4 linked regions of the Homo sapiens genome follow. The protein of the gene in region 2 interacts with the protein of the main gene of each other region in a pairwise test. Each region holds a gene or a part of one and is shown on either strand. Other genes may lie near its edges.

Region 1 (3,500 bases), on a different chromosome or scaffold from region 2:
AAGGGCAATGATGGCCTGCTCCAGGAATGAGAGCGATTTGTTGATGTAGGTGGCTTCCTTCAGGACTTGGCCCTCAGACTACAAAGCAAAGGTCAGTTCCACTTTGGATGGAATAAAGCAGCTGCCCCACTAAGAATAGCAGTCTTCCTGGTCTGGAGAAATGCTATAAGTCTGTGGTCAGGTCAGCGCCTCCTTCCCAGAACCAGGGTCTTCTTTCAATGTCATGCGATTGTATTCCATCTTGGGCTAATAATGGTAATACCAAAACTCAGAAATATTCATGTGAACACTCATGTGAATACTCATGCGAATGTGAATGCTTACATGAATATTCATATGGACATTCACTCAAAGATTCACACTAATATGAATATGTACTGAAATACTTGTCTAGATATTTGAGCAAAGAATCCTGTGAATATTCACACAAACACTCATGAATGCACATACAAATGCTCATCTGAATACTCTTGTTAATACTTCTGCTAATACACTCATACAAATATTTATTTGAAATACTCATGCAAATACTCATACGAATACTCATATTCATTCACAAAGAAGCCAGGTGTGGTGGCTCACACTTGTAATCCCAGCACTTTGGGAGGCCAAAGCAGGAGGATCGCTTGAGCCCAGGAGTTCAAGTTCAGCCTTGGCAACATAGCGAGACCCCGTCTCTACAAAAAAATTTAAAAATTAGCTGGTCATGGTGGTGCATACCTGTGGTCCCAGATACTTGAGACACTGAAGTGGGATGATCACTTGAGCCTGGGAGGTCAAGGCTGCAGTGAGCTGTATTTGTGCTACTGTACCCCAGCCTGGGAGACACGGCGAGACTGTGTCTCAAAACAACAACAACAAAAACACACACAGAGAAATGCTATACCAGCAAGGAATATTTACTGAGCACTGAGTGCCAGGCACTTTGCTAAGAATGTAGAGGGCACTATCTCATTTAATGTTTACAAAAATCCTCTGAGGTAGGAACCGCCCCCAGGTAATAGCCGTTCCCTTTTTGCAAATCCTGTCCCTCCAGCAAGCCCACATGTCCCACTTCGCCTAGCTCAGGACTGTGTTCACAAATATCCAATGAGTCATGGCCCAGATGTGCAGGCACTGTGCCAGAAAAAGGGCTTGTGGTTTATTGAGTAGCAACCTCCAGCCCCCATCACTTACCCCAGACTTCCCCAGCCTCTCTGAGCCTGCCAGATCCACCAAGTTAATTTTGGAAGTGATGTACTTTTCCTCTGATAAGGTCCGGGAATGGGCCTACAAAACATCCAAGCAGAAGTTAGACTGTCACAGGGAGAAGTTTCTGACTGAGCAGGCCCCGTGGGAATTGACTGCCCCGCCTGGGCTGATCAAAGAGCTTGCACCTACCTCTAAGTAGATGGTGAAAATGCAGTGTGATCTGGAAGAGTTTTTGTTCATAGTGTGGGAGGCTATAATCCTGTTGGTCTCACCCTGAAGAGGAAGGGAATCATAGGCAACATTTCGAAAAACTAAAACGACAAGGCACTTGGGTCATTTTTCAATTATACCAATAGCTACACAAGTGGTCTCATATCACTGCGATCAGCTGGGCCTTCCAGGCAAACCTCTTTTATAAACTAATAGAAAGGGAGTCAAATTGGAGTCCACATCTACACTTTCACCCGCCGCTGGGGAAGTGTGAATTGGTATAGCTTTCTGGAAAGCAAAGTGACAATAAAAATCAAGAGCCTTAAAAATGTTTATGAATATTGAATCAGAATCAACCTGCATGTCCAACAATTTGGGAATGATCTATGTATACAGTGGGATATTGGGCAGCCAGGAAAATGCTGACACATAGTTTTTAATAACAGAGAGAAATGTAGAATCCAAAATCATATTATAGCTGATCTAAGAAATGCAAAAGCATTCATAGAAGAAATAAGCAGAATTCTGCTAATAAGATGTTAATAATAGTTGCTTCTGGGTTGGGGTTTATAGGTTATTTTATCTTTTTTATACAGTTTTGTGGGTTTTTTTTAGTGAGCATGTATTACTATAAAAATAATAATTTATATTTTTATTTATTTTGTGTTCTCCTTTTTTTTTTTTTTTTTGGGAGAGCATCTCAGTCTGTCACCCATACTAGAGTGTGGTGGCACGATCTCGGCTCACTATAACCTCTGCCTCCCGGGCCCAAGCCATCCTCCCACCTCGGCTTCCTGAGTAGCTGGGACTACCAGCGTGCACTACCACACCTGGCTAATTTTTGTATTTTTTGTAGAGACAGGGTTTCACCATGTGCCCAGGCTGGTCTGGAACTTATGAGTTCAAGAGATCTGCCCGCCTCGGCCTGCTACAGTGCTGGGATTACAGGCATGAGCCACTGTGCCTGACCTAGTAATTTGTATTTTTAAAGGGACAGTAGGCCCTTACCTCTAATTTACAGGAGGAGGCCTTATGACCAGAATATACTTAAAAAGGAATTTTTTGTAGAGACAGGGTGGTGGTGTGGTGGAAATGGCTGTTCTTGGAGAAAAAGGTCCTTGAGGGATAGACTGATGTCTCCTTAAATGCTGATGAGAAGTGCTATGAACAAGCCCCAAAGTGAGGGTGGGGGACAGCCCCCCCTGGGGAGAGGAGAGCACCCGCTGAAGAGGGAAGGCCTGAGGCTGTGGAGCAAGCCTAGCAGACTCCTGTGGCCATACCTCTATAGCTTATAGTAGTGAGGCTATAGTCTATGGTCAGGCCTGTTCTACAAATCCAGTGACACTCACCAAGAATATAAGGGGTCACTTCATTTTTCTTCTTCTTTTTTTTTTTTTTTTTGAGATCATTCTCACTCTGTTGCCCAGGCTGAAGTGCAGTGGCGTGATGTTGGCTCACTGCAACTTCTGCCTCCCGGGCTCAAGTGATCCTCCTACCTCAGCCTCCCAGGTAGCTAAAATCACAGGTACAGGCCACCATGCCAGGCTAATTTTTTATATTTTTTTGTAGAGACAGGGTTTCGCCATGTTGCTCAGACTGGTCTTAAACTCCTGAGCTCAAGCAATCCTCCTGCCTTAGCCTCCCAAAGTGCTGGGATTACAGGCATGAGCCACCACAGCAGGTCATTCACCTTTACTCTTCAGTCCCCCTTCTGAAGTACCCTCTTGCCTTGTCTTTCTTTTTTTGTATTTTTAATAGAGAGGGGGTTTCACCATGTTGGCCAGGCTGGTCTCGAACTCCTGACTTCCAGTGATCCGCCTGCCCCGGCCTCCCAAAGCTCTGGGATTACAGGTGTGAGACACCGCGCCTGGCCTTGCCTTGTCTTTCTGGCCCTTTAAAAAAGATCCTGCTATTGACGTTGAGGAAGTAAGTTGCTATGTTGTGAGAAGGCACTATGATCATGCCTGTGAATAGCCATTGCACATGTGCCCATTGCCTGGGCAACACAGCGAGAACTTGCATAAAAAAATAAAGAGTTCCTAGCCTATATGACTTCTAAAAGAATAACATACACTTGACTGATTTCTTTTCTTGTTTTT
Region 2 (3,500 bases):
AGCTCGAATCCTGGAGGTGGAGGTTGCAGTGAGCCGAGATTGCACTCCAGCCTGGGCAACAAGAGCAAAACTCCGTTTCAAAAAAAAAATTGTGTGTGTGTGTGTGTGTGTGTGTGTGTGTGTGTATTTATTATGTTGGAATCCATTCTGTATTTTAAATCAGTGGTCCCCAACCTTTTTGGCACCAGGGACTGGTTTTGTGGAAGAAAATATTTTCACAGATCAGAGTCGGGGGCTGGTTTTGGGATGATTCAAGCGCGTTACATTTATTGTGCACTTTATTTCTACTAGTATTACATTGTAATACATAATGAAATAATTATATAACTCACCATAATGTAGAATCAGTGGGAGCCCTGAGTTTGTTTTCTTGCAACTAGACAGTCCCATCTGGGGGTGTTGGAGACAGTGACAGATCATCAGGCATTAGATTCTCATGAGGAGTACCCCACCTAGATCCCTCACATGTGCAGTTCACAATAGGGTTCACGCTCCTGTGCGAATCTAATGCCCCTGCTGATCTGACAGGAGGTGGAGCTCAGGCTGTAACTTGAGCCATACAGGGACTGGCTGTAAATACAGATGAAGCTTCATCTACTGGTGACCTCCTGCTGTGTGGCCTGATTCTTAACAGGCCATGGACCAGTATCAGTCTGTGGCCCAGGGGTTGGGGACCCCTGTTTTCAATGTCTCCTTATAAAATATGCAAGAACAAGGGACATGCTTCCTCTTTAACCTTTGTTTATACATATTTATGGTGATCAGCCTGAACTAGAGGTAACAAATAAAGATAGAAGAACATCTTAATTTAGGGTGGTGTATCATCAGTTTTCCGGAAATTAACTGAGTTTTATTGTATAAGAACATTTTCCTAATCTGCCCCAGAAATCATTTTGAGCAGAAATAGATAAGGCCTGAAATTTCCACATGAATTACATGAATATTGTTTTCATCTTGCAGAATTGTGATCTGTCTGGGTGTGATCTTCAAGAAGCCAACCTGAGAGGGTCCAACGTGAAGGGAGCTATATTTGAAGAGATGCTGACACCACTACACATGTCACAAAGTGTCAGATGAGAATTTTAGGGGCTGGAGGAAGATGTAAAAGATGAAAATGTTTTCCTTATCACTTTTCTTTCTCCACCCACTCAGTTGTCTAGAAGAAATAACACTGTAAGGAAATTTAAAAAAAAAACATTTAGAGGATTATGCTTGTTTTGAGTGGTGCATAAGGGAAAAAACTGACTTTTTTTCCATATTCTGATTTTTAACAGAAAAGCACTCATTTAATAGATGTAGGGAAACTAGATATTGCTGCCTTTTGAATGGGGTAGGGGGGTTTACCTGGTTTTATGACCAGGCATAGTATCTATTATATTTGCTTTTAAATAGGCATGATGTGGAAATACCATCTTGGTTTGAGATGCATTTGAGGATTTTAATTTATGGAAAGCACAACATATGCAATTATATTTATTGAATTCCTAGATGCAGTATGGATATTTAAATTGTTAAAACTTTATGAAAACTTGGAAAAGGTTGTTCAGGTTTATAAATAGCTTTAGTGATGCCTCCCCTCTTTAAATACCTGTCACACCGTATGAATATGGTGAGATCAGACTCCCTAAGACTCTTTTCAGGTTCATTTTTATAATGTTTACTTTTTAGGACAGAACAGTAGCTAAATTAAAGTAATATCCAGTTCTTACTGATTGAGACAGAGTGGAAAGAAAGACATCATTGTACATCACTGTCATTCCAAAGGTACAGTGTAACTCTGGATGGAGGAATAACTTACCTATCACTACAACACTTACAAATGAGAATTTCTCAGAATTTCATTCTAGGCAAGTTCCACTCAACACCAGATCAAGCAATTCTATCTATTTACACTATTAGCCTAGTTTTCTCATACAGTCATCACAAGCATAGGAAGATACTTCAAAACCAAAAAAACCAAGGTGCATCATTAATATTCATTTAATTCAAATACCAAATAGTTTACATAGGGCCAGCTTAGAAATAGATACTAAATCCAGAGCTACTGCAATCAAAGCTTATATGAGTGAATATGGTAGAGTTGCCTGCTAAAAGGCAATGTAATATAATTGCAGCTAGAACCCTACAGTGGGGAATGAGGAATTTTAAACACACATTTGATTACAGCCACCAAAAAAATAGACGTAAAAATAAAGGCATTTGGCTGGTCCAAGATGTAATTATCAATCAGTCAGCACCTGTGATTCTTTTACTTATTTTTTTGTGGTTTTTTTTTTTTAAACAAATTTTAGCCCAATTTTCTTGAGTCATTCTCTCTCTGCAGCAGCAGAGGAAGGGCCTGTACCTCCCTACCAATGACTTGGTGTCCTTATTTTCTACCCCAAGAGCAGGGATATTAGCTGTGTCCAAATGGGTTCTGAATTCTACAGACTCATCAACATGAGGCAAGGAATCATTGAAAACCACCTGTGTCTCCTTTGGGAGAATGACATATCTTTAGTATTTACGTAGCTTATTCTTCTATATCTACATATGCAAAGCTTTCCTTAACAGTAAAGGGTACATATGCATAGTGGGAGGAGATCAGACCTTTACAAGTGAAGGAAAGCAACTTCAGAAATGAATTATTTTCTTTGCTTTATTATTTTTACCAAGACAGAGAAGTATTGTATTGAGAGATAATCTATTTTCATAATCAATATGTGCCTAAATTATATTTAAATCATTTCACTCTGTACTATATTTTCAGGAATTACAGAATGTGGTATTCATTCACTTAAAGGTACCTCTGTAGAAATAACCTAAAACTGCAGAAGGATCTGAAAGATCTAAACATGGTGTGCTTAGAAACTGCAGATTTTAGATCTAATGTATACTGCATTAATAAATGATATAAAGTGTTTGTTGAAAAGGAGTTTCTTCTCTTCCTTTTGAAAATCATCACTTTCTGTATTTTGCTTACATTTCTTCAATATGTGTTGACAACCAGCCCTGTGGTTCTGGGTAGCAAAGGAAATACAGTATAACTTAATTTGTTATGGATTAGTCTTTTTGAAAGTACCATTAAAGTAAATTTATTTCTTTAAACATGATTATTTTTATCATTCTTTTAAAAATACACCATGCTAACAACACAAACCTTATGAATTCTGAACAAAAGAAAAGACTGCCTCCCCAATAATTCGTTTAATTTGTTTGTGTTAAATTCATCACTCTTTAGGTGATGAATATTACCAGTTAGCTTTATTAGACTGGATAAATAGCATGCCCCAAAACATTTTTTGCCTGATAACTAGGATAGAGAATTTTAAGGAGGGAAGAAACCGTTAAAATAGTAAAACTTCCATTAACCCTAGAGATGAAACATGTCTGTACACATAGGTAAAAATACAGCTGTTGGGATGACAGGAAAAAGGTTTTAAATCAAAATTAAACTAGCTGGATTATCTGCATTAATAAAATTTGGTACTCAACTAAGCAATACTATCTATTGTAGTCTA
Region 3 (3,500 bases), on a different chromosome or scaffold from region 2:
AAGTAATGTTCTAGTTCTATCTTCACAAGAAATCAGCAGTTTAATCTTCAAGGGCTGAGATGCAGCAGGAAACTGGAAGAATAGACCAAGTAAAGAATTCAAATGAGCTTGCTCACATTAAAGAGGCAGCAAGACTCATCACTCTATGAACAAAGACTCAGGAATCTTTAGGACTAAAGGAGACACTCATTGTCCACCAAACAGCTAGATCTAGGCATCCAGGCAACACAGGCTCCAGGGGAGGTCCTCATGATAATAAGGACTACATCATGCCTCCAGTAACCCCTGCCATACCGTAGAATTATAAAAAAGTTGGTAAAGATTCTACAAGTTGAGTCATTTTGATATTTAGCAAGTTATTCCAGTTATGCTTCTTTTAATTCTATGAATCTCAGAAATATCCCAGAAAGTTTTATGAACCATCTCTTTAAATCTAGGCAGTGTAGGAACTACAAAAGCAGTAAATATTAATATACATTTCTAGTTTATTCTCAATTATTTTAAAATGAATCAACAGTTTACAATTATTTTCTATCTATATTATTTTGATAATTTAGAAAAATATTTAATAGATTAGCTTCAAAGTTACCATTCTTATTTCAGTTTTTTGCTCAATATTCTATAGTAACAAATGCAGGCTAGGACATCTGAATCATATGTTAATAAAAGTTTAAAAACAAAAGGGGAGAAGACAACCTTTATTTAGCACATCCACTCCAGGCTACATGCAATGTAACATTCATTATTTCATTTATTCCTTATAATATATTTAGGTGGAGAAAATGTGTACCAGATGGTTTGGTGTGAAATTATACCTAAGTTTCCTAAGAGACAGATATCATCTTGTCCACATTTTAGTTAGGGAAACCGAACCTTAGACAGTTGAGAAACACAGGATCTACTGGACTTCAGAGCCTCTGCTCTCAACCATTAAGCTAATTAGTCAGAAGTCATATCCAGAAGATTGCCTTTGTATTCCATTTTTCTTGTATTGTGAAAACTAGACATTTTAGGCAAAATAAAACTACCATAAAGGGACCTAAACTGTGATATGTCTCCACTTTCCTGTGAAGAGTATCCCAGCACAGGATTCACAGAAACCTAATCCTTTTCAAACGGTGTTTGATGGAAGTGAATACCACTTTTCTGAGGTGCAACAAACAGCTAAGCGGAGAAAAATGATCCCATTGACAATATCAATCAAGATGCAGAGCTAGCATCTGCTTGGCAACTTGACTACGATGTTCTAAAACACTTTAAGTAAAAAAAAAAAAAAAAAAAAAAAAAAGCTTTAGAGAAATAACTCTAGGTGCCCTCTCAATTTTAATAAGATGTTATGACTTCCACTAAGCACATGGAATACATTGTCTTTCTGATCTATGAGCTTTAATATGTTAGTCATGATGACATTTTTTAGCCACCACTCCTTTAAACTTGAAATCTCAAGGTAGTAAGAGAAATTACAAATACAAAATTTTAAATATTTCCAAATGATCTCTTAATTAGCATCAGCATGAATGATACCAGTATAAAGGAAGAAAGGGTAAAAACTAAATACAGGGTTATGGCTGATCACTAATACAAAATTTATATTTGGCCTATAAATATTTTTAAAGACCATTTGATCACATCTGGACCCAGCTTTGAGAAATAGTGCTATATAATAATTAAGAACTGTAATTGTATAATTATAAATTTTTTTATTGGTTTGTTTCTCCATAATATATAGAATTTATGTGTGAGGGTTCAGGTGATCATTAGTACAAAAACACAACAGGCTTAGAATATTACATGATTGCTTCTCCCATAGTTCTTAGAAGTCAGAGTCCAACTTCTGCAAGTGTGGAAGAAAGATAAATGATGAAGAGATAGAATAAACGAATGACACAGACAGCAACCCACCATGTTGACAAGACAGATCAATTTCCCATTACCCTGTCAAATGCTAATGGAAAGCAACCTCCATGTTCCTGCTGCTACACAGATCTTAATTCTAGATGTCAGGAGATCAGAGGGAAAGACACATCCCAAACTTGCCTAGATCTGGCTGTGTAAGAGCAGCATCCTCTGCAAGCATCATCATTCATGCTTACAACCTCACTCTGTGCTAGGAACAGACAGTAAGAGACTGAAGGCTGTGGACAAGGTAAGGAATGACAACTCACAGACTTTGCCTCCATGGGCTTGACCACAAACTTCTCAGCTTGTACAACCCTGCCTCTGCCACAGGCACCAGCAACAATGCAGAGATGCCGCACATTTATAACTCATTCCGAGCCAGCTATGTCATGAAGGTTTTCTTGAGGCTGTGCGTTTATAAATCTGGGACACGTAATCAGAAGCCAGTCAATTAGAGACGCAAATTTAGACCAAACTGAGAAGGTCTGGAGGATGATTTTTAATCTGAGAAACATTGACCAATTATCTATATTTCTCTTAAAACCATTTCTTGGCCGGGTATGGTGGCTGTCATCCCAGCACTTTGGGAGGCTAAGGCGGGCAGATTACCTGAGGTTAGTGGTTCAAGACCAGCCTGGTCAACAGGGTGAAACCCCATCTCTACTAAAAATAAAAAATAAAAAATAAAAAATAAATTAGCCAGGCATAATGACACATGCCTGTACCCCGGCTACTTGGAAGGCTGAGGCAGGAGAATCGTTTGAACCTAGGAGGTGGAGGTTGCAGTGAGCTGAGATCGTGCCACTGCACTCCAACCTAGGAGACAGAGACAGATTCTGTCTCAAAAACAAAAACAAAAACACAAAAACCATTTCTTGACCACATATAAAAAAATTAAAGCATATCAAATACCAAAAAAGCATACAACCTACCTCCATTGGTCCTATTTGGTTGCTGATCTGGAGTTTGGGCTTGAGGTGAATAATACTGTTGCTGCTGGTAATTATTTGAAGGAAAATACTGGGAACTGGGGCTCCTCCTACACTCCCGAATGCTGGAGAAAGTCTGTGAATGGGGAATTCCTCTTTGGAAAGGGGAACATCTTGGAAGACGAGGCTGAGGTGGTGGCAAATGATCAAATTCCTCTTCATCCTCCAGACTGTATTGGTCATATTCTTGATCACTACATGTCCCTTTTTTTCCTGAACTCAATGACACACTGGAACTATGTCTTGATACAGATGCTGAAGTAGAAGCATAATCTTGCCTGAGACCTATAAAATAACAAATAGTACTCTAATGTATTTTGATCTAGCTAACATTTAGTTATAATTAACCAAGTATTAGATGAAAAATTGTGCCAAATAAATTACTCACAGAGACTTATTATCTTGTTCTCAAGTTTACTAAATTGACAAGTTTACCAAGACAATAATCACATTTACCTATGAAACAGATATCTAATATTGGACAATTCTGTTTTGCAAAAAGATTGCCCCAATTCCAGTGAGGATTATATATACCTGCCACAGCTCATTCGTTAATATCTATCAATTTCCCCTTTTCAAATCAAGAGATATTTTAGAAGGGGAACTTAGGAA
Region 4 (3,500 bases), on a different chromosome or scaffold from region 2:
CAGATCACTTGAGGTCAGGAGTTGGAGACCAGCCTGGCCAACATGGTGAAACCCCGTCTCTATGAAAAATACAAAAATTAGCCAGGCATGGTGATGCATGCCTGTAATCCCAGCTACTCAGGAGGCTGATGCAGGAGAATTGCTCAAACCCAGGAGGCAGAGGTTGCAGTGAGCCGAGATTACACCACTGCATTCCAGACTGGGTGAGAGAGCAAGACTCTGTCTCAAAAAAAACAAAAACAAAAACAAAAAAACGCCAGGCACGGTGGCTCACGCCTGTAATCCCAGCACTTTGGGAGGCCGAGGCGGGTGGATCACGAGGTCAGGAGATCGAGACCATCCTGGCTAACACGATGAAACCCCGTCTCTACTAAAAATACACAAATTAGCCAGGCATGGTGGTGCACGCCTGTAGTCCCAGCTATTCGGGAGGCTGAGGAAGAAGAATCACTTGAAACTGGAAGGTGGAGGTTGCAGTGTGCTGAGATCATGCCACTGCACTCCAGCCTGGGTGACAGAGCGAAACTCCACCTCAAAAAAAAAAAAGCATTGCACACTGGTCTTCCTTGGTGAGTATCCTGAAGCAGCTTCACAGAATAAAGTTTGAAAACCACTACATCAGGCTGGATATCTTTTCAACTTATTATTTCTACTGTTTACTTGCTAAGCATTTACAAATAAATAGGTAAAAAGATAAATTACCAAAGGCTCATGAAACACTTCGGAAAAAGTTCTAATGAAAACTCTTTGGCCAGTGTGGCAGTGAAACCCGACGATTACACATCATGGAGGCCAGCATCCTACTCTAAGCCTTGCCACAAAATTTCACGTTCCCAAGGACACCAGATTTGCCTGGTTTATACCTGTCTCTCTATCTGTTAAATGGAGATAATTTTAGGGCATTCAGATGGGCTACATCAAATATGCCACATAATTCATTTTAAGTAAGAAATAGGCTGGGCATGGTGGCTCATGCCTGTAATCCTAGCACTTTGGGAGGCCAAGGCGGGTGGACCACGAGGTCAAGAGATCGAGACCATCCTGGTCAACATGGTGAAACCCCGTCTCTACTAAAAATACAAAAAAGTAGCCAGGCATGGTGACGGGCGCCTGTAGTCCCAGCTACTCAGGAGGCTGAGGCAGGAGAATGGCATGAACCCGGGAGGTGGAGCTTGCAGTGAGCCGAGATCGTGCCCCTGCACTCCAGCCTGGGTGACACAGTGAGACTCCGTCTCAAAAAAAAAAAAGAAAAGAAATAGCCCCATAACTCATCATCCTCTGACATTAGTCAAACTGTAAGGAGAATTTGAGAAAGGAAGCCTTTTTTTTAGACAGAGTCTTGCTCTGTCACCCAGGCTGGAGTGCAGTGGCATGATCTCAGCTCACTGCAACCTCCACCTTCTGGGTTCAAGCTATTCTCCTGCGTCAGCCTCCTGAGTAACTGGGATTACAGGTGTGTGCCACCACATCTGGCTAATTTTTTGTATTTTTAGTAGAGATGGGGTTTCACCATGTTGGCCAGGCTGGTCTTGAACTCCTGGGCTCAACTGATCTGTCCATCTTGGCCTCCCAAAGTGCTAGGATTACCGGCATGAGCCACTGTGCCTGGCCGAAGAAAGCAAGCCTTGAGCATAGTATAAGCCCTTTTTCTGCTCTTTGGGGTCTAACCAACAAGAAGAGACCATCTTAAATGTATACAAGCATTTAAATAAACAACTAAACTGAAGGCTTCTGAATTTTTTCCCCATCTGTCTTTTTTCGTCTTCTGATGATTTCATGCCTTTAATTCCTATACAAATTAACATCCATTTATTAAGAATACTTCTTCCGGTATTCCATTCATTAAGAATTCCCTTCCAGTGTATAAATGCATAATTAATATTCTCAGCAGAATATATAGACCTAGCTGGATGACACTTTTTCAGCAAACACTTATTGAAAACCTACAATGGACATATATTCAAACTTATCTATATAATACTATGTGCAATTTCGACATTTTAACAAAACTGAACATTTCATGTTTCCCTAAATGCACAAATACACTTGTACATTAGTCCACTAATTAATAAAGAAGACACCATGAAAGAGTTTGATATTTGAAGCTGGAATCTTAACCTTTAACATAGTATATATGTGCTTTGGAAACATATCTAAGAGAAATACTTAACATCCTTGTAAGTAAAATGGGGATAACACACATCTTATGGTGTCATAATAAGGATACTTAATAACAGATACATATGTAAGTATTTAGAATAGCACTGTCCAAGAGAACTTCTATGATGATGGATATGTTCCAGATCTGTGATGTCTAATACAATAGTTGTGGCTATTGGGTACCTGAAATGTGGCTGTGACTGAGGAACAGAATTTTTTTTTTTAAGAACAAAAGTTGATTTAGCATTCAGGCAAAGTCTACCAGGAGATTTTCCACCAGAAACTGAATTTTAAGTTTTATTTAATTTTAATTAACTTAAATTTAAATAGCCCCATGTGGCTAGTTGGCTACCATACTGGACTGTGTAGATCTAGAAAAATCCTAGCACATAATATATGTTCAATGTTATTTTACTTCTATTTTCCCTATCAATACCAGCATGGTGGCTTGGCGCCTGTAGTTCCAGCTATTTGGGAGGCTGAAGTGGGAGTATTGTTTGAGCCCGGGAGGTTGAGGCTGCAGTGAGCTGTGACTGTGCCACCTCTTAGGTGACAGAGCGAGACCCTATCTCAAAAAAAAAAAAAAAAAAAAAAAAGCACAACAAATGATCCCTCACGAAAAACTAACTTATAGCCATTAAATTGCTTCTTTGACCAAACAGCAATCGCAGCATAAAAACACAAGTGGGCTGGGCATGGTGGCTCATGCCTGTAATCCTAGCACTTTGGGAAGCAGAAGCGGGAGGATTGCTTGAGCCCAGGAGTTCGGGACCAGCCTGGCAACATGGAGAAACCCCATCTCTACAAAAAATTAGCCAGGCATAGTGGTATGCACCTACAGTCCCAGCTGCCAGGGAGGCTGAGGTGGAAGGATCATCTGGGCCTGAAAGGTCAAGGGGCTGCAGAGAGCTGTGGTCATACCACTGCACTCCAGCCTAGATGACAGAGTGAGATCCTGTCTCAAAAAAAAAGTAAGAGCTTTGCATTATTACCTTATTTAATCTTCATAATAACTTTTTGAAATTGGTAAGTAGGGAAATTAAGCTTAGAATTTGTCCAAAGACATCCAGCTAGTAAGTCAGTAAGCAAATATTCAAACCCAGGTAGTCCAATTCCAGAGACTATGCTCTTAACCACAATGCTAAATTGCCTACATTTTAATGAACCAGTTTATGTAAGATTCATTATATACTCAGTGGTAGTAAATGTCCTCCCAACCAAACCACCACACATACACAGAGCAAATTAGAAATCAAACAATTTGAGCTACAGACACAGAAGTTATACATGGTAACTGGCTGACCCAAAATGAGTCACATCTGCCAACTGGTGTGACCATA

What was found. The genes of interacting proteins can lie anywhere in the genome.
Region 1: the proteins of KCTD9 (region 2) and KIF9 interact in binary tests that used the Homo sapiens proteins (3 or more experiments, as listed by UniProt).
Region 3: the proteins of KCTD9 (region 2) and SLAIN1 interact in binary tests that used the Homo sapiens proteins (3 or more experiments, as listed by UniProt).
Region 4: the proteins of KCTD9 (region 2) and PSMB2 interact in binary tests that used the Homo sapiens proteins (3 or more experiments, as listed by UniProt).

What each region holds. Positions count from the first base shown.
Region 1 is NC_000003.12:47,265,800-47,269,299, forward strand, and holds part of KIF9 (kinesin-like protein KIF9), read right to left. Parts: intron 1,465-3,500; coding exon 1,381-1,464; intron 1,270-1,380; coding exon 1,177-1,269; intron 79-1,176; coding exon 1-78. UniProt on the Homo sapiens protein: Essential for normal male fertility and for progressive motility of spermatozoa.
Region 2 is NC_000008.11:25,427,434-25,430,933, reverse strand, and holds the end of KCTD9 (BTB/POZ domain-containing protein KCTD9), read left to right. Parts: intron 1-960; coding exon 961-1,077; 3' UTR 1,078-3,087; downstream 3,088-3,500. UniProt on the Homo sapiens protein: Substrate-specific adapter of a BCR (BTB-CUL3-RBX1) E3 ubiquitin-protein ligase complex, which mediates the ubiquitination of target proteins, leading to their degradation by the proteasome.
Region 3 is NC_000013.11:77,746,187-77,749,686, reverse strand, and holds part of SLAIN1 (SLAIN motif-containing protein 1), read right to left. Parts: intron 3,174-3,500; coding exon 2,832-3,173; intron 1-2,831. UniProt on the Homo sapiens protein: Microtubule plus-end tracking protein that might be involved in the regulation of cytoplasmic microtubule dynamics, microtubule organization and microtubule elongation.
Region 4 is NC_000001.11:35,624,527-35,628,026, forward strand, and holds part of PSMB2 (proteasome subunit beta type-2), read right to left. Parts: intron 1-3,500. UniProt on the Homo sapiens protein: Non-catalytic component of the 20S core proteasome complex involved in the proteolytic degradation of most intracellular proteins. This complex plays numerous essential roles within the cell by associating with different regulatory particles.